Regions from separate parts of the Homo sapiens genome. Here region 1 is linked to region 2. Evidence: fine-mapped expression QTL. Tissue or cell type: skeletal muscle. Region 2 holds a variant in brackets; the other region holds the start of a gene. All regions are shown on one strand. Distances are between the middles of the regions.

Evidence for each region. PIP is the estimated chance that this variant, and not a neighbour inherited with it, causes the effect. A credible set is the group of variants that fine-mapping cannot tell apart.
Region 1: ZNF571-AS1 starts here. The variant in region 2 is the best candidate, but not a certain one, in a credible set for the expression of ZNF571-AS1 in skeletal muscle (GTEx, PIP 0.56).

Annotation. Positions count from the first base shown.
Region 1 is chr19:37,544,438-37,552,738 of GRCh38, reverse strand. ZNF571-AS1 (ZNF571 antisense RNA 1) reads right to left here and starts at 3,790. Exons shown (of 6, transcript NR_038248.1): 1 at 3,584-3,790; 2 at 1,748-1,877. It overlaps LOC124904708, which reads left to right and starts at 1,400. Exons shown (of 2, transcript XR_007067248.1): 1 at 1,400-4,847. It also overlaps a transcript of ZNF540 not described here.
Region 2 is chr19:37,406,728-37,415,028 of GRCh38, reverse strand. ZNF569 (zinc finger protein 569) reads left to right here. Exons shown (of 6, transcript NM_152484.3): 6 at 610-3,872. The coding sequence ends at 2,432. Among named protein-coding and RNA genes, the nearest start is that of ZNF527, 40 kb to the right of the region's middle. The variant G/AAGGAG (reference allele first, on the strand shown) is at 4,200.

The DNA.
Region 1 (8,301 bases), 140 kb before region 2:
TGACTCCAAGTGATCCCACCACCTCAGCCTTCCAGAGTGCTAGGATTACAGGCATGACCCACTGCACCCGGCCCTCACAACAAATTGTCTTTGAAACAAAGAATATTACCAGGGATTTATTCTAAAAAGGCATATTTTATAATACTATAGAAGTGTATTGACCAAGAAGACAAAGCAATCATACAAGTACTTGTGCCTAGTACCAGAACTAAACAATACATTAAAAACTGCTAGAAATAAAAATAAATGAACTCAGAATCATATTTTGAGATTTTAATACTGTTCTCTCATTAACTTTTAAAAGTATATAGAAAATCTATAAAGATATAAGATACCTGAACGGTGCTAATAGCCAACTTGTTGTAATTGATACTTATAGACTAGTCCACCTAAGAGCAGCAGCAGTGTTTTCACTTATACAAAGAACTTTAGCAAGCTTGTTTATATTCTGAGCCATAAATTGTCAATATATTGAAAAGGATTGAAATCAGAAAATCTGTTTTCTAACCACAGTAGAATTAAGCCAGAAATTAATGTCAAAATTAAAAAATGTTTGCAAATTAAGCAACACACATTTAAGTAAACTATGGGACAAGTAAAAAATTACCTATTTGGAGTCAAAAATAACAGCATATAAAATTTTGTGGAATGCAACTAAAGCAGCACTTTGAGGGAAATGTATGCTTTTAAATACATATCAATGGTTTAAGTTCCCACTTAAAGAAACAGGTGAGACTCAGAAAAGGAATTAAGCTTAGAGCTGAAATCAATGACCCCCAAGAAAGCGAAAAACAAGAAAAGCACACTTGGGACCACAAGAGGGCGCATAAGAGAGCCCGCGGACTACAGAGAAACGGCGCTCCACCGCACGAGACACATTCTTTTCACCAGACACCACCCCCCCCACACACACAGACATGCAACACTTGCACAGAAACACACACAGAGATATGCAACACTCGCACAGAAACACACACACCCAGGCAGCTCCTGAGGCTGCTTGGTTCTCCTGTCCGCCAGAAGCCCCTCCCCGGAGACAGCAGCCCCGGTACACACAGGCAGGCGGTACCTACCTCGCAATCCCAGGCGGGACAACGTTCAAGGAGACGCGCTCCCAGCACCGTCTAGGCAGGCCTGACGCGTCGGGGAGATCCGATAGGGATCACGCGGTGCATCCTTGAAGCTACGCTGGACGTTTCTTTAGCCTGGTTCTGCCCTGCCCGACTCCTAGGGTCGGGGGACCAAGGCGACGATCCCCCGGAGAGGAGGGGGCCATAGCCCAGCGCCGACGCACTGCCAGGGAGGGCTCCAGCTCCGCCAAGCCGCTAGGGCCCGTCCCCAGGCAACGGTGGCTGTCACTGTGACGCGAGCCCCGGCTCAGCCGTCGCGCCTGGTGACGCGCGCCTGGCGCATGCGCATTCGCGTGCCCGGCTGGCGCTGCCGCAACGTCAGGGCTCTCAGGGCCCATAGGAAAACGGTGGAGGCCGTGCTGGCTGCGGCCCGGGGAAGAAGGCTGCGTGAGACCAGCAGCGCAGGACCCTGACAGTCCTGACCTCAGTGCCTCCTTCAGCCCACTTCGTGTACGGGTCTGGGTGGAGGAGGAGGCGCTTCAGACCTTGAGGTGGGCACTCGGGACTGCTCTCTGATTTGATTCTAGATTGGAGGGTGTGGGCAGGAATCAGGTCCCATGGGGCTGGGGATCCAATCTGGTGAGGAGTTGAGGGGTCGCTGGGGTAGGAAAACATACCTGAGACCCCAGTGGAGGGTGTGAGCAGGACATTCCCTCGCCCCATGAGCTGACTGGCCCCCTTTCGACCTGGGCCTCCCAGGGCCCTGTCCTGGTCTCCAAGACCAGGGCCTTCGGCTTCTCAGCATTGCTGTCCAGAAAAGGCGGGAACAAGGACAAAGTCAAGCCCGATGTGAAGCAGAGGTGGCAACACCTAAAACTGGCATCCCATGGGGGCAGAAAATGTGGAGAGAGTGTCTCAGAGGCCTTCTGGGGTGAATCCAAGCCCAAAAGGGATATCCAGGCATGCTGGCGAGGGCCACTGAGGATACCCCCAAGAAAGCGAAGCACAAGCAAAGCACACCTGAAACCATAGGAGGGCCTGTGCCGGAGTCCAAGCCTCCTCCAGGGATTCCTGCCAGAGGAGCCAAGAGGATCCTGCAAAGTGATCCAGCACCCACACCGGGATCACAACCCACCACCGGGTCTACACCCAGCTAACCCCCAGTCCCTTTTGCTCCGTGAAATCCCTGGCAACGAAAAGGTGCAGTGCTGAGAGGCAGTCCCAGCCAGGAACAGAGCAATGGGAGACCCCTCAACAATGAGAAAACACCAGCAGATGAGATGAAACATAGCCTTCATTAGAAGGCAAAGGCCAGCTACGGCTGGCTACCTCTCATTCTATGTGAATCATGCAGCCATCTGATGCAATGGGGAGACCAAGAGTTTCCTTATTGGGGAAAGCTACGGGCACCCACGGTTCCAAGAGCATCACAGCTACCCAGTCATTAAGAAATGTGAGTGTTGAGAAGGAAACACTCATCACCTACGTCCCCGCCAAGGTGGTCCTGGACGAACTGGGAAACATTTGCTGTGAAGGACGTTCTGGAGGACTGTGAGCCAGACCAAGGAAAACCTGGGCCGACGAGAATCAGGGAAGGCAAGAAAAGAGGGAGAACAGAGTAGAGGCCGCAGCCCAGGCAGGATCAATCCATCCCACTCCCATGTGCCTCGGGGAACCAGGGTCCAACAGGGGACCTGGCCAGAAAGGCGACAGTCTTCGGTCCAAAGGTTCTCCGAACACTCGTGTCTTCTATCGCCAGCACAGCGCCATGGTGTGGACAGGTTGTACAGTGAAGAGGAAAAGGGGATGGCGTTGGAAACAGTTTCTTTGACATCTGTCTGCACCTGTTCTGCAGGTGAAGGTGCGAGACCTCCTCCACACCTCAGCGGATTGTATCTTCACCCCCATCTGACCTTTTTTCTGCACACATCCTTTAATCCAGAATGAAATCTGAAGAGGATGAAGGAGTGCCCGCCTCAGGTCCTGAAGCTGCGACTCCGCCAGCCACCGAATTAGAAGTGGGCTCAAGGGGGTACTGAGGACAGGACAGCTAGGGTCCGTCCAGCCTTGGGTGTGCCGCAGGACCATGGGCCCCTGGAGGAATTTGTTCTTGGTTGTCGTGTGCTGGTCTTCTTTCTGGAAGAGTGGGCGGCTTGGGAGGGGAGGTGATTTGGACGTTTGCGGGTCGCAGCCAGCCCCCCACTTCACCGAGGCTTTAGGAACCAAGAGCGAAACAAAGAACGCTTGCCCCGCAACCCAAGCCCGGCCAAAGAGACGGGCGCATCAGAGCGTAGGCGAACTACAGAGAAACCGCGCTTCACTGCACGAGCCACATTTCTTTCACCGCACACCACACACACACTCACACGCACACACAGAAAGACACACGGAAACATCCAACAGTCGCACAGAAACACACACAGCCAGGCAGCTCCTGAGGCTGCGCGGTTCTGCTCTCTGCCAGGAAACCCCTCCGGAAAGAGAGCGCCCCGGGGAACACAGGCAGGCCGTACCTCGAAATCCCAGCGGGGACACCTGTCAGGGAGACGCACCCTCACACCGCCCATGCATGCCCGACGCATCTTTGGGATCCTTAGGGATCACGTGGTGCTTCCTTGAATCTCCGCTTGAGGTTTCTTCAGGCAGGTTCGGCCTTGCCCGACTCCTAGGATCGCAGGACCATGGCGACGATCCCGCGGAGAGGGGACGCACTGCCACAGACGCCTGGGGGCCAAGCCGCTGGGGCCAGTCCCCCGGCAACGGTGGCGGTTACTGTGACGCGAGTCCCCCCTCAGCGCTAGCGCCTGGTGATCGCGCCTGGTACGTGCACTTTCGCGTTCCCGGTTTGTGGGCCGCATTGTCAGGGCTCTCAGGCTGCAGCCCAATAGGAAAACAGTGGAGGCCGTGCAGGCGGCGGTTCGGGGAAGGAGACTGCATGCGACAAGCAGCGCAGGACCCTGACTGTCGTGACCTCAGTGCCTCCTTGAGCCGACCTCGTGTTTGGGTCCGGGTGTAGGAGGAGGTGCTTCAGACCGTGAGGTGGGCACTCGGGATTGCTCTTCTGATTTGATTCTGGACTGGAATCAAATTGGAATTGACCCGGAATTGGGTCCCACGGGGCTGGGGAACCAATCTGGTGAGGTGTGGAGGGGTCGCTGGTGCACAGAAACATACCGGATACCCTCGGGGTGGGTGTCAGCAGAACATTCCTCGGCTCCATGAGCTGACTGCCTCCCTTTGATCTGGGCCTCCCAGGGCTCTTCCTGCGTCTCCAAGCTCAGGGGCTCCTGCTTCTCAGCACTGCTGTCTGGAAAAGGCGGGAACGAGGACTAAGGCAAGCCCAGTGTGGGGCAGAGATGGCAACACCTGGAACTAGCTTTTCATGGGGGCAGATAATGTGGAGAGTGTCCCAATTACATCTCCCTTTATTCTATCCCATACTACTAAACCCCACCAGCTATTTGCCTACAAACTGTGTATCAGTCAGGACATCAGGACACCAAGATAAAGGACTAGAGTTTGGTAATCAACTACTGGCTCCTCCAGCAGCTCAGAATGTGGCCTGTATGCATCACTTCACTTAATTCATTCAAGAAATGCTGACTGAGTTCCTGCTGTGTGTTGGACACTTTCTTAGAAGTGGGACACACTGCAGTGTGTGGGACAAAGGCTGGGCCGCTCATTGCTTATGTTCTAGTTGAAGAGAGAGTCAATCAACAACATTCTACTTTCAGACATTGATAAATGCTGTCATGAAAAGACAAGGAACATGAAAAGGTAAGAAAAGGGATGGAGAGAGATGGGATGAGGGGTGCCTGGGCAGACAATGCAATGATCTGGCAAAAGAGTAGGACAATCATGAGACTGCATGTGTTCCAGTTTCTGCTGCTGTAAAACAGCATCCACAGGTTACATCTTTACTATTCTGTTACATACATACTATTATTTAAATAAAAAATAGTACTAGTTAACTGTGAAAATTGCAATTAATAGGGCAGATTAAACAAATCCTTTAAATTTAAACAAATGTTTTATGGTTTTTTATCCTCTGATACATTGTTTCAACTTTAAAAAACCCTCTTTATTTGATATTTAAACTCTATATTAATGTATATTCTTAAGATACATAAATTTAAGATTTTTTTCGAGACAGGGTCTCATTCTGTCACACAGTCTGGAGTGCTGTGGTGCAATTATGGTTCACTGCAGACTCCACCTCTCCAGGCTCAGATAATCCTCCTGCCTCAGACTCCTGAGTATCTGGGACCACAGGTGTGCATCACCACACCCAGCTAATTTCTTGTATTTTTTTGTTGGGATGGGGTTTTGCGATGTTGCCCAGGCTGGTCTCAAACTCCTGGGCTCAAGTGATCTGCCTGCCTTGGTGTCTCAAAGTGTTGGGATCACAGGCGTGAGCCACCACATCCAGCCTAATTTAAGATTTTTAAAAAGCAGAATGTAAATATGGTCATGCATTGTGTAATTCTGTGGATACTTTCTGAGTAATGCATGGTTAGGTGACTTCATCATTATGTGAACATTATAGAGTGTACATACACAAACCTAGATGATGTAGCCTGATGGTACAGCCTATCACTTCGAGGCTACAAATCCAAATTGCCTGGATACTGTAAACAATTATACTCAATGGTATTTGTGTATCTAAACATGTCTAAACATAGAAAGGGTACAGTAAAAATATGGTATAAAAGATAAGAAATCGTATACCGGTATACAGCACTTACCGTGGATGGAGCTTGCAAGACTGGAAGTTACTCCGGGTGAGTCAGTGACTGAGCGGTGAGTGAATGTGAAGGCTAGGGCAGTACTGTATACTACTGTAGACTTTATATGTACTGTATGCTTAGGCTACACTAAATTTATTTGAATTTTTTTGTCGGTAATAAATTAACCTTAGCTTACTATAATTTCTTTATAAACCTTTTAATTTTTAAAAATGTTTTGACTCTCTTGTAATAAATTAGCTTCAAACACATTGTATAGCTGTACACAAATATTTTCTTTATATCCTTATTCTATAATCTTCTACTTAAAAATTTTTTTAATTTTTTTATTTTAATTTAATTTTATTTTATTTTGAGACAGAGTCTCACTCTCTCGCCCAGGCTGGAGTGCAGTGGCGTGATCTTAACTCACTGCAACCTCCGCTTCCCAGGTAATATTATTTAAATAAAAATAGTACTAGTTAACTGTGAAAATTGCAATTAATAGGGCAGATCAAGCAATTCTCTTGCCTCAGCCTCCAGACTTTTTTGTTAAAAACTAAGACACAAACACATTAGCCTAGGTACACACAGTGCCAGGATCATCAAAATGTCATTAGGCAGTATAAACTTTTCAGCTCCATAAAAGTTGGAAAAAAAATAATAATAATAAATACAATTTTATAAAAAGAAAATTTTCAGCTCTGCTATAATCTTATGGGACCACTACTGTATATGTGGTCCCTCATTGACCAAAACATCATTATGTGGCACATGATTATAACAAATGATGGATGGCGAGGTTGTGAAGAAACTGGAACCCTTGTGCATTACTGGTTGTAATATAAAAAGGTACAGCCACTGTAAAAAAAAAACACAGTTTGGTTATTTCTTCATAAGTTAATCATAGAATTACCATATAATCCAGCAATTTCACTTCTAGGTATATGCCCAAAATAATTGAATAAGGTGTTTAAACATAAACTTGTACAAGAATGTTCATAGCAGTACATTTCACAATACTCAGATAATCCTCTCATTGGAAGCAACTCAAATGTCCACCAACTGATGGTATTACCCATGCAATGGAATATTATTCAGTCATAAAAAGGAATGAAGTACTGAGGCATGTTACAACATGAAGGAACTTTGAGGACAGTTTGTTAATACGCTATATACTGTGTAATTCTATTTATATGAAATATCCAGAATAGGTAAATCATTAGAGACTAGAGACAGCAGATTAGTGGATGCCAGGAGTTTGGGGAAGGAAGGGGTGGGAAGAATGGGAAGTGACTGCTTAATGGATACAGGGTTTCTTTTTGGGGTGATGAAAAATTTCTGGAACTAGATTGTAGTGATGGTTGCACAACACCGTAAGTGTAATAATGTCACTGAATTATACACTTTAAAGTGATTTAAATGGTAAATTGTATTATTTATGTATTTTACCACAATAAAGAAGTCACCTATCACCAACCCTTTAGATCCCTTATTGACTCCTTAGACTCCCCACATCCCATATCCCAGAGACTACCACTCTCCCAAATTCCAAGACCTCGGATACCTGACCCACTGGGACACCCATACCAATTATAGCCTTCTCTGGACTCCTGAATCATTGAAAACCAAGTATCTGCATGCAATCATTCCTTGGACCTCTTTATCACTACATCCCAGAACTGATTCTCCTCCCCCAATTCCTAAACCCCATTCCTGCCACCCACTTCCCATTTTCAGTCAATTGCATCCAATTCCTAAGCCCCATCTCTCCGCAAGACCACACATTGCCATGGTTTCCTCAAAGGACATCTCTCCTTCTGTGGCGGCAGGGCCACTGCAACAACCCTCTCCACCTCGCCCCAAGGCTGCCACACACACTCAGGTGTGGCTTTCCGCTGTGTAGCTAAATGCCCAGGGCGCCCCATTATAGTGTGAGATGCTGAGTAATTAATTGCGTCTATGCGGTGAAACCAGGTAGCTGCACCCATTTAGCTGTTTCTCCCTGGGGACGACCATTTTCAAAGATGTGTCCTACAATACCCCCAGCCTATCTTTTTCTGACCCCAAGGTTTTGGTTGTTCTAGGTAGGGATACACAGTTGACAATGACCTGCTACCATCCTTTCTGTTGGAACCCCACTCTGAGGCTGTCACTTCTGCAGGAAACCACTGCCCGCATCTCCTCTCCATCAATATAGTGCTAGTCATAAGAAAAACAGTAGGCCGGGCGTGGGGGCTCACGCCTCTAATTCCAGCACTTTGGGAGGCCGAGGTGGGTGAATTGCTTGAGGTCAGGAGTTCAAGACCAGCCTGACCAACATGGTGAAACCCCGTCTCTACTAAAAATACAAAAATTAGCCAGGCGTGGTGGCTCACGCCTGTAATCCCAGCATGTTGGGAGGCCGAGGCAGGAGAATCGCTGAAACCCGGGAGGTAGAGGTTGCAGTGAGCCAAGCTCATGCCACTGCACTCCAGCCTGGGCGACAGAGTGAGACTCCGTCTCAA
Region 2 (8,301 bases):
AATTTTTGTCTTTTTTCTTTCACAACATTTTAGACAGCATAGGAGTTGTCCTTTAAAATCTGTTAGAATTTTCATGTGGATCTCTGGGTTTTTCCTTTTTGTTTTAGGGAATTACTTTTCATATTTCTTTTCATTTTATGGAAATTGGTTTAGATAAGTTTTTTGCATCTTGTAGTGTCAGTTTTAGTAATTTACAATCCAGAAAAGTGTTTAGATTATAAAAATGTATTTTAATAGAGTCCCGCAAAATGATCTTATACTTTTTAGCTTCCTGTTTTTGTTTTTTCTCTATCATTATTTCTTCTTACTTCATTTGTACATTCTGCATTTCCTATTTATTTACCTATTTGTTTTCTATCAGATCATTTTTTAAAGCAATCAAAGCTATTTGTATTTATAAATATATGCCTCTACTCATATTTCCTTTCCTGAATTTCCTTCTCAGAACTTCAGAGATAAGAGATATATGCAGTTGAAAATGTTTTAATAGTGGGAGAGTAGGGCTTAAACCAATAATCAGTCCCATAATTGCATATTTTTCAAAATGTTCTTCATATTACAATATTGGAAAAAAATTTGTAAGTGATATTTATTTGCAATCTGTTTTAGGAGAAATATGGGGAGTTGATGAGCATCAGAAAAACCAGGACAGACTTTTGAGACAAGTTGAAGTTAAATTCCAGAAAACACTGACTGAAGAAAAAGGCAATGAATGTCAAAAGAAATTTGCAAATGTATTTCCTCTGAACTCTGATTTTTTCCCTTCCAGACACAATCTCTATGAGTATGACTTATTTGGAAAGTGTTTAGAACATAATTTTGACTGTCATAATAATGTGAAATGCCTTATGAGAAAGGAGCATTGTGAATATAATGAACCTGTGAAATCATATGGTAATAGCTCATCCCATTTTGTCATTACCCCCTTTAAGTGTAATCATTGTGGAAAAGGCTTCAATCAGACTTTGGACCTCATCAGACATCTGAGAATTCATACTGGAGAGAAGCCCTATGAATGTAGTAACTGTAGAAAAGCCTTCAGTCACAAGGAAAAACTTATTAAACATTATAAAATTCACAGTAGGGAGCAGTCTTACAAATGTAATGAATGTGGTAAAGCTTTCATTAAAATGTCAAATCTCATTAGACATCAAAGAATTCATACTGGAGAGAAGCCCTATGCATGTAAGGAATGTGAGAAGTCCTTCAGCCAGAAATCAAATCTTATTGATCATGAAAAAATTCATACTGGAGAGAAACCTTATGAATGTAATGAGTGTGGAAAAGCATTCAGCCAGAAGCAAAGCCTCATTGCACATCAGAAAGTTCATACTGGGGAGAAACCTTATGCATGTAATGAATGTGGTAAAGCCTTCCCTCGAATTGCATCCCTTGCTCTTCATATGAGAAGTCATACAGGAGAAAAACCTTATAAATGTGATAAATGTGGTAAAGCCTTCTCTCAGTTTTCCATGCTTATTATACATGTTAGAATTCATACAGGTGAAAAACCCTATGAATGTAATGAGTGTGGAAAAGCCTTCTCTCAAAGCTCAGCCCTTACTGTACATATGAGAAGTCACACTGGTGAGAAACCCTATGAATGTAAGGAATGCAGAAAAGCCTTCAGCCACAAGAAAAACTTCATTACACACCAGAAAATTCATACTAGAGAGAAACCTTATGAGTGTAATGAATGTGGGAAAGCTTTTATACAGATGTCAAATCTTGTTAGACACCAGAGAATTCATACTGGGGAAAAACCCTATATATGTAAGGAATGTGGGAAAGCCTTTAGCCAGAAATCAAATCTCATTGCTCATGAAAAAATTCATTCTGGAGAGAAACCCTATGAATGCAATGAATGTGGTAAAGCCTTCAGCCAAAAGCAAAACTTCATTACACATCAAAAAGTTCATACTGGAGAGAAACCTTATGATTGTAATGAATGTGGTAAAGCCTTCTCTCAAATTGCATCCCTTACCCTTCATTTGAGAAGTCATACAGGGGAAAAGCCTTATGAATGTGATAAATGTGGTAAAGCCTTCTCTCAGTGCTCACTGCTTAATTTACATATGAGAAGTCACACAGGTGAGAAGCCCTATGTATGTAATGAATGTGGGAAAGCCTTCTCTCAAAGAACTTCCCTTATTGTGCACATGAGAGGCCATACAGGTGAAAAACCCTATGAATGTAATAAATGTGGAAAAGCCTTCTCCCAAAGCTCATCCCTTACTATACATATACGAGGACATACAGGTGAGAAACCCTTCGACTGTAGTAAATGTGGAAAAGCCTTCTCTCAAATCTCATCTCTTACCCTTCATATGAGAAAACATACAGGTGAGAAGCCCTATCACTGTATTGAGTGTGGCAAGGCTTTCAGCCAAAAGTCGCACCTTGTTAGACACCAGAGAATTCATACTCATTAGAAACCCTATGAATATTGTGAATATGGCAAGGCCATCTGAAGGAATTAACACCTCATTGCACATTACATGATCACTTCCAGAGTAGAAAACTATGAATGTGGGATAGCCTTCTGAAAAAGCCACAAATTTATGAAACATTAGAGAATTCTTCCAAGGTGACAAATTATATAATGAAAAAGCTGTTACCAGAAACTTTCAGCAGACATCTTATTGATAATATTTAATCAGCATTCTCATTGAAATCTGAAACAAGGTATCTTCCATCAGCATAACAACACAACACTTGAGCTCCTAGCCAATGTATTAAGTAAGGAAAACAAGTATCAACGAAGAACTATAAAAATAACTTTTATACAAGAAATAATTAGAAAATGTGTTGATAGAAAACCTAAGAATAAACACAACAATGAGTTAGGTCTTTATCAAGTTATAAAATATGTTGAAAGGCACAAAAGAACACCTGAAAAATGATATTTTGTCTGAAAAGACTTGACATTGTAAAAATATAATTTCTCTCCCAAATCACTAAGTTTAATATACTTCTGAAGTTTACATCAGTTTTATTTTAAGGAACTTCACAAACTTATCCAAAAATTTTATGTGGAAAAGTAAAGAAACACAAATAGCTGAAACAAACTTGACAAAGCAAGTAGAGAAGACACACTCTATTATTAGATATATCATGTACTTATTTAAAGCTGCTGTCATTTAAACAATGTATTACCAAGTGAATAAATCAAGCAGTAGTAAGATAGTGAGCATTCATACAAAAATCCAAGAAGATACAGGAATTCTGTGTATGACAGTGCTATTGAAATCACTGGGGAATGAATGGCTTATTTAATAAATGGAAGGTTCATAGGAGAAAAATTTTAGCTTTCTACTTTATATCATATACAAAAATAAAATCCAACTAAAGACCAGAATATAAAAAGCAAAATTTTAAAACTATGATGAAAGTAGAATCCGTTACTTTAGGGTAACAAGATTTCTTTAAAAAACATGTAAACATGGAATAGTCTGTTGAATTTTGGTGTATTGGCCTCACAGGCACCCACAAATGTACACAAAGAGATATATATCACTGTGTTCCTGAATCATGGTTTGTATTGCCCAAAATTGGATATAACAAATTTTTATCAATTGTGGAATAGATGAATAAGTGTGATCATTTCTGTGATAAAATACAGAATTTAGAAACAAAATCTACCTATAGTTATATGGATAGATTACAATATATAATATTGAGAGAAAAAATTAAAATGCACAAAGGAACACAGTATAACATTTGTATAATTTAATAAGATCTTGCAAAGAACAGTACTGTGTATTGGTCATGGATCCATATATGACTTGGTTGCCTTTTGGGATGTGGGAAAGGTTTGGTGGGAGTTGTTATATTTATCTGTAATATTTCTTTAATAAAAGAGTGAAAGCAAATATGACAGTGGTGACAAATCTGGTTGTCCAAATTAATTATATGGGTTTTTAAAATTGTTTTTTCTTGCTTTTATTTTCCTAATTTCTCAAAAATAAGAATCAAATGGGTGGGGGAAACCTGGGCCTGGAGAAATAATTTTAAAATGGATTTTTATTCTTGATCAGATACTAACATTTATAGAAGATTGTCTTTACACAAAACATACCTGACAAGGTATTATTTTGTTTACTGTCTCTTCATGTTAATTGGAATAATAAAATCAGCAGTATTTTCGCATTTATTTGAGGCCAATTTTTAATTTTAAACTCAAATTTTTTTCTAGTTGA[G/AAGGAG]TATAGAAACAAAACAATTATTTTATTATTGGGATAATTGGCTATCCATTTGGGGAAAGAAATCCACCTTCATTTGGGTTGGTTTTGGAGTGAAGGAAAGAGACCATTCATGCATACTGTAAAATATAGTTTACATTCTAATATATCAAGCCAAGAATAGTTATTGGTGTTAGAGTAGAAGCAATTTCTATATATCTCAACAAAGCTTTTCTTTGTTTCTGGATCAATAAATGGGGATGCAGATGCTGGTGATTTTATGTATGCCAGGTAAGGGCCCAGTGGATGTGAAAAATTCACTTCATTCTGTTCCACAGATGTTTTATATTCAGGCCTTTCAAATATTTATGTCGTGGCCAGGTGCAGTGGTGGCTCACACCTGTAATCCCAGCACTTTGGGAGGCTGAGGCAGGTGGATCACTTGAGGTCAGGAGTTTGTGAGCAGCCTGGCCAACATGGTGTAACCCCGTCTCAACTAAAAATACAAAAATTAGCTGGGTGTGGTTGTGTGTGCCTCTTATCCCAGCTACTTGGGAGGCTGAAGCACGAGAATTGCTTGAACCCAGGAGGCAGAGGTTGCAGTGAGCTGAGATCACGCCACTGCATTCCAGCCTGGGCAACAGAGTGAGACTCCATCTCAAAAAACAAACAAAAAAACAAATATGTTGCCTCCAATTTCATTTTCTGTGAATAGTCTATTCATATATTAAGTCTGTTTTTTTCTACTGGAACTTCAAAAATGTTTTTCTTGGAAACAATTATGGATTTATAGGAAGTTATACAGATAATGCTGTATAGTACTATTTAGTCCTTGTACCCCACACCTCGTTTCTCCTAATGGTAACACCTTATATAACAGTACAGAATCAAATTTGACATTGGTACAATCCACAAACATTACCAGTTTTATAGGCACTTGTGTATGTGTCTGTACAGTTCTATACAGTTTTATCTCATGCACAGATTAGTGTAACTGCCACTCCCCATAGTCAATCTATAAAACTGACAGCACCACAAAGGTCCCTTGTTCTATCCATTTATAGTCACACCCATCTTCCTGTCCTCCTCACTCCCCATCCCTAACCCCTGGCAATTACTAGTCTATTCTCTATCTCTATAGTTTTTTCATAATGGATTTTTTTCTTTTTTGTGTGTGTTACAATATATTCTGGACACAAATCCTTTGTCAGTTACTTGCATTCTAAAAATAGTTTTGTTTTCAGTTTATTGCAGACACAAAAATTTTAAAGCTGAATGTGAAAATTAGTCTATGATACATTTTGAGTTAACTTTTTATAAGGAATAAAATTTAGGTCAAGGTTCATTTTTTGGATGTCTACTTGTTACAGTGCTATTTGTTGAAAAAAAATATTGTTTCTCCATTGAATTGCTTGGCCTACTTCTGTGTTTCTGAATGCTCTTTTCCAAAAATCTATGCATCTATCCCTCTATCAATGCCACACTGTCTTGATTACTATAGCTGTATACTGATTGCTCTCATTTTTTTACTTTTTCTTTTTCTTTTTTTTTTTTGAGGCAGGGTCTCACTCCTGTCACCCAGGCTGGAGTGCAATGGTTCTAGTCATAGCTCACTGCAGAATCAGATGATTCTCCAAGCCAAGTAGCTGAGACTAGACGTGTGTGTCAGCACACTCAGCTAATTTTTGTATTTTGAGTAGAGATGGTTTTGCCATGTTGCCCAGGCTGGTCTCAAACTCTTGAGTTCAAGGAATCCTCTGGCCTTGGTCTCCCAAAATGCTGGAATTACAGGCGTGAGCCACCACACCTGACCTATTATTCATTTTCAAAATTTATTTATCTATTCCACTTTCTTTGCTCTTCCATATAAATTTTGGATCAGCCTGTCTGTGTTTTCAAAAGCCCTGCTTAAATTTTCATAGAAATTGCATTAAGCCTTTATTTCATTGTGGAAGAATGGAAGTCTTTACTATACTAAGCCTTCCACTCCATAAACACAGTATGTGTCTTATGTAGGTCTTCTTTGAGTTCATCAGTTTTAATCATTGTTTTGTAATTTTTAGCTCCGGTAAATGTATTAGATTTAAACTTAACTGCTTCACTGGATGTGTGTGTGTGATATTCTTGTTTGTAAATTCCTTTAGATTTTCTATGTAGAAATAATATCATCTGCAAATGGGGCCAGTTATGTTTTGTTCTTTCCAATCTATATGCTTGCTTTTTACTTTTCTGGCCTTATAAATTGTCAGTAAGCTTCTGGAATGGGATTTTAAAGCTGACTTCTGGGAGAAAATCAGTTAAGCAATCTTCAAAGACCAAAACATAAGAGTCAATGAAAACATAAAAGGGGGCAAGGATTGAAAAAGTAACCAGTGGGTATCGTGCTCAGTACGTGGGTGGCAGGGTCATTTATACCCCAGACCTCAGCATCACACAATATACCCAGGTAACCTGCACATGTACCCCCAACTCTAAAAATTTTTAAAAAAGAGATGATATTTAAAGGAGAAATGGGATTGCCCTATACTAGAGTAACAGTCACTTGTACAGATAGAATTCCATTGTTTTTATCCCTAACGTGGCCTGAGTTTCAAAGAACCTAATTGAGATAGGTAATCTGGGTGGAGCTTTGCTCCCATCAGTCAACAGCAGGAAGGATCAGTTGTGAATACTGTGGGATCTAACCAGAGATTCCTTCCTGGAATCCCAGTTGAAAAAACAGCGACCAGGTAATTAAGGTCTCTATCAGTTCTCAAACTCCCGACCTCAAGTGATTAACCCGCCTTCGCCCTCCCAAAGTGCTGGGATTACAGGCATGAGCTACCGGCCTGGCAGGGTCTCTATCAGTTCTAACCATTTTCTCTTGAGCCATGTACACGAATCCAAGAAAGTGCCTTTCTCATGTGTAAGCTCCACAACACAGTTAATAAGGGTACTACATGGGTACACATGGACATAAAGATGGGAACAATAGACAATGGGGACTACTGGGGGGAGGGATGGAGTGGGGTAAGGGCTAAAAAACTACCTAGTGGGTACCATGCTCACCATCTGGGTGACAGGATCATTTGTACCCCAAACCTCAGTATCATGCAATATATCCATGTAACAAACCTGTACATGTACTCCCTGAATCTAAAATAAAAGTTAAAAAAAATTTTAAGGTACAACAGCGAAGATCAAAACTGATTCCTGAAGTCAGCCTTGTGATTTTTGCAGGTGTGGCCCACTGTATGTGCAGGGAAACAGGAATCAAAGCAGCAGTAGGGGGTGAAGTGGGAATCCATTTTAGGTCTAATCTATGGTATGAAAAGAACACAGGTAATTTTAATAAAATTCTGACAGTAGAATAGGGTGGTAGAATATATGTTCTTTATAAAATTAAATGAGTCCCAGCGCGGTGGCTCACACTCGTATTCCCAGCACTTTGAAAGGCCAAGGTGGGAAGATTGCTTGAGCTCAGGAGTTTAAGACCAGCCTGAACAACAAGTCACAACCCTGTCTCTACAAGTTAAAAAAAAAAAAAAATAGCTGGACATGGTGGTGCAGCTACTTGGGAGGCTGAGGTGGAAGGATCAGTAGAGGCTGGGAGTTCTTTGAGTTCGAGGCTGCAGTGAGCTATGGTCATGCCACTGTGCTCCAGCCTGGACAAGAGAGTGAGACCCTGTTTCTATTTAAAAGAGAGGGAGAAGATGGATTAAAGACTTAAATGTTAGACCTAAAACCATAAAAACCCTAGAAGAAAACCTAGTCAATACCATTCAGGACATAGGCATGGGCAAGGACTTCATGTCTAAAACACCACAAGCAATGGCAACAAAAGCCAAAATTGACAAATGGGATCTAATTAAACTAAAGAGCTTCTGCACAGCAAAAGAAACTACCACCAGAGTGAACAGACAACCTACAGAATGGGAGAAAATTTTTGCAATCTACTCATCTGACAAAGGGCTAATATCCAGAATCTACAACGAACTCAAACAAATTTACAAGAAAAAAACAACCCCATCAAAAAGTGGGCAAAGGATATGAACAGACACTTCTCCAAAGAAGACATTTATGCAGCGAACAGACACATGAAAAAATGCTCATCATCACTGGCCATCAGAGAAATGCAAATCAAAAC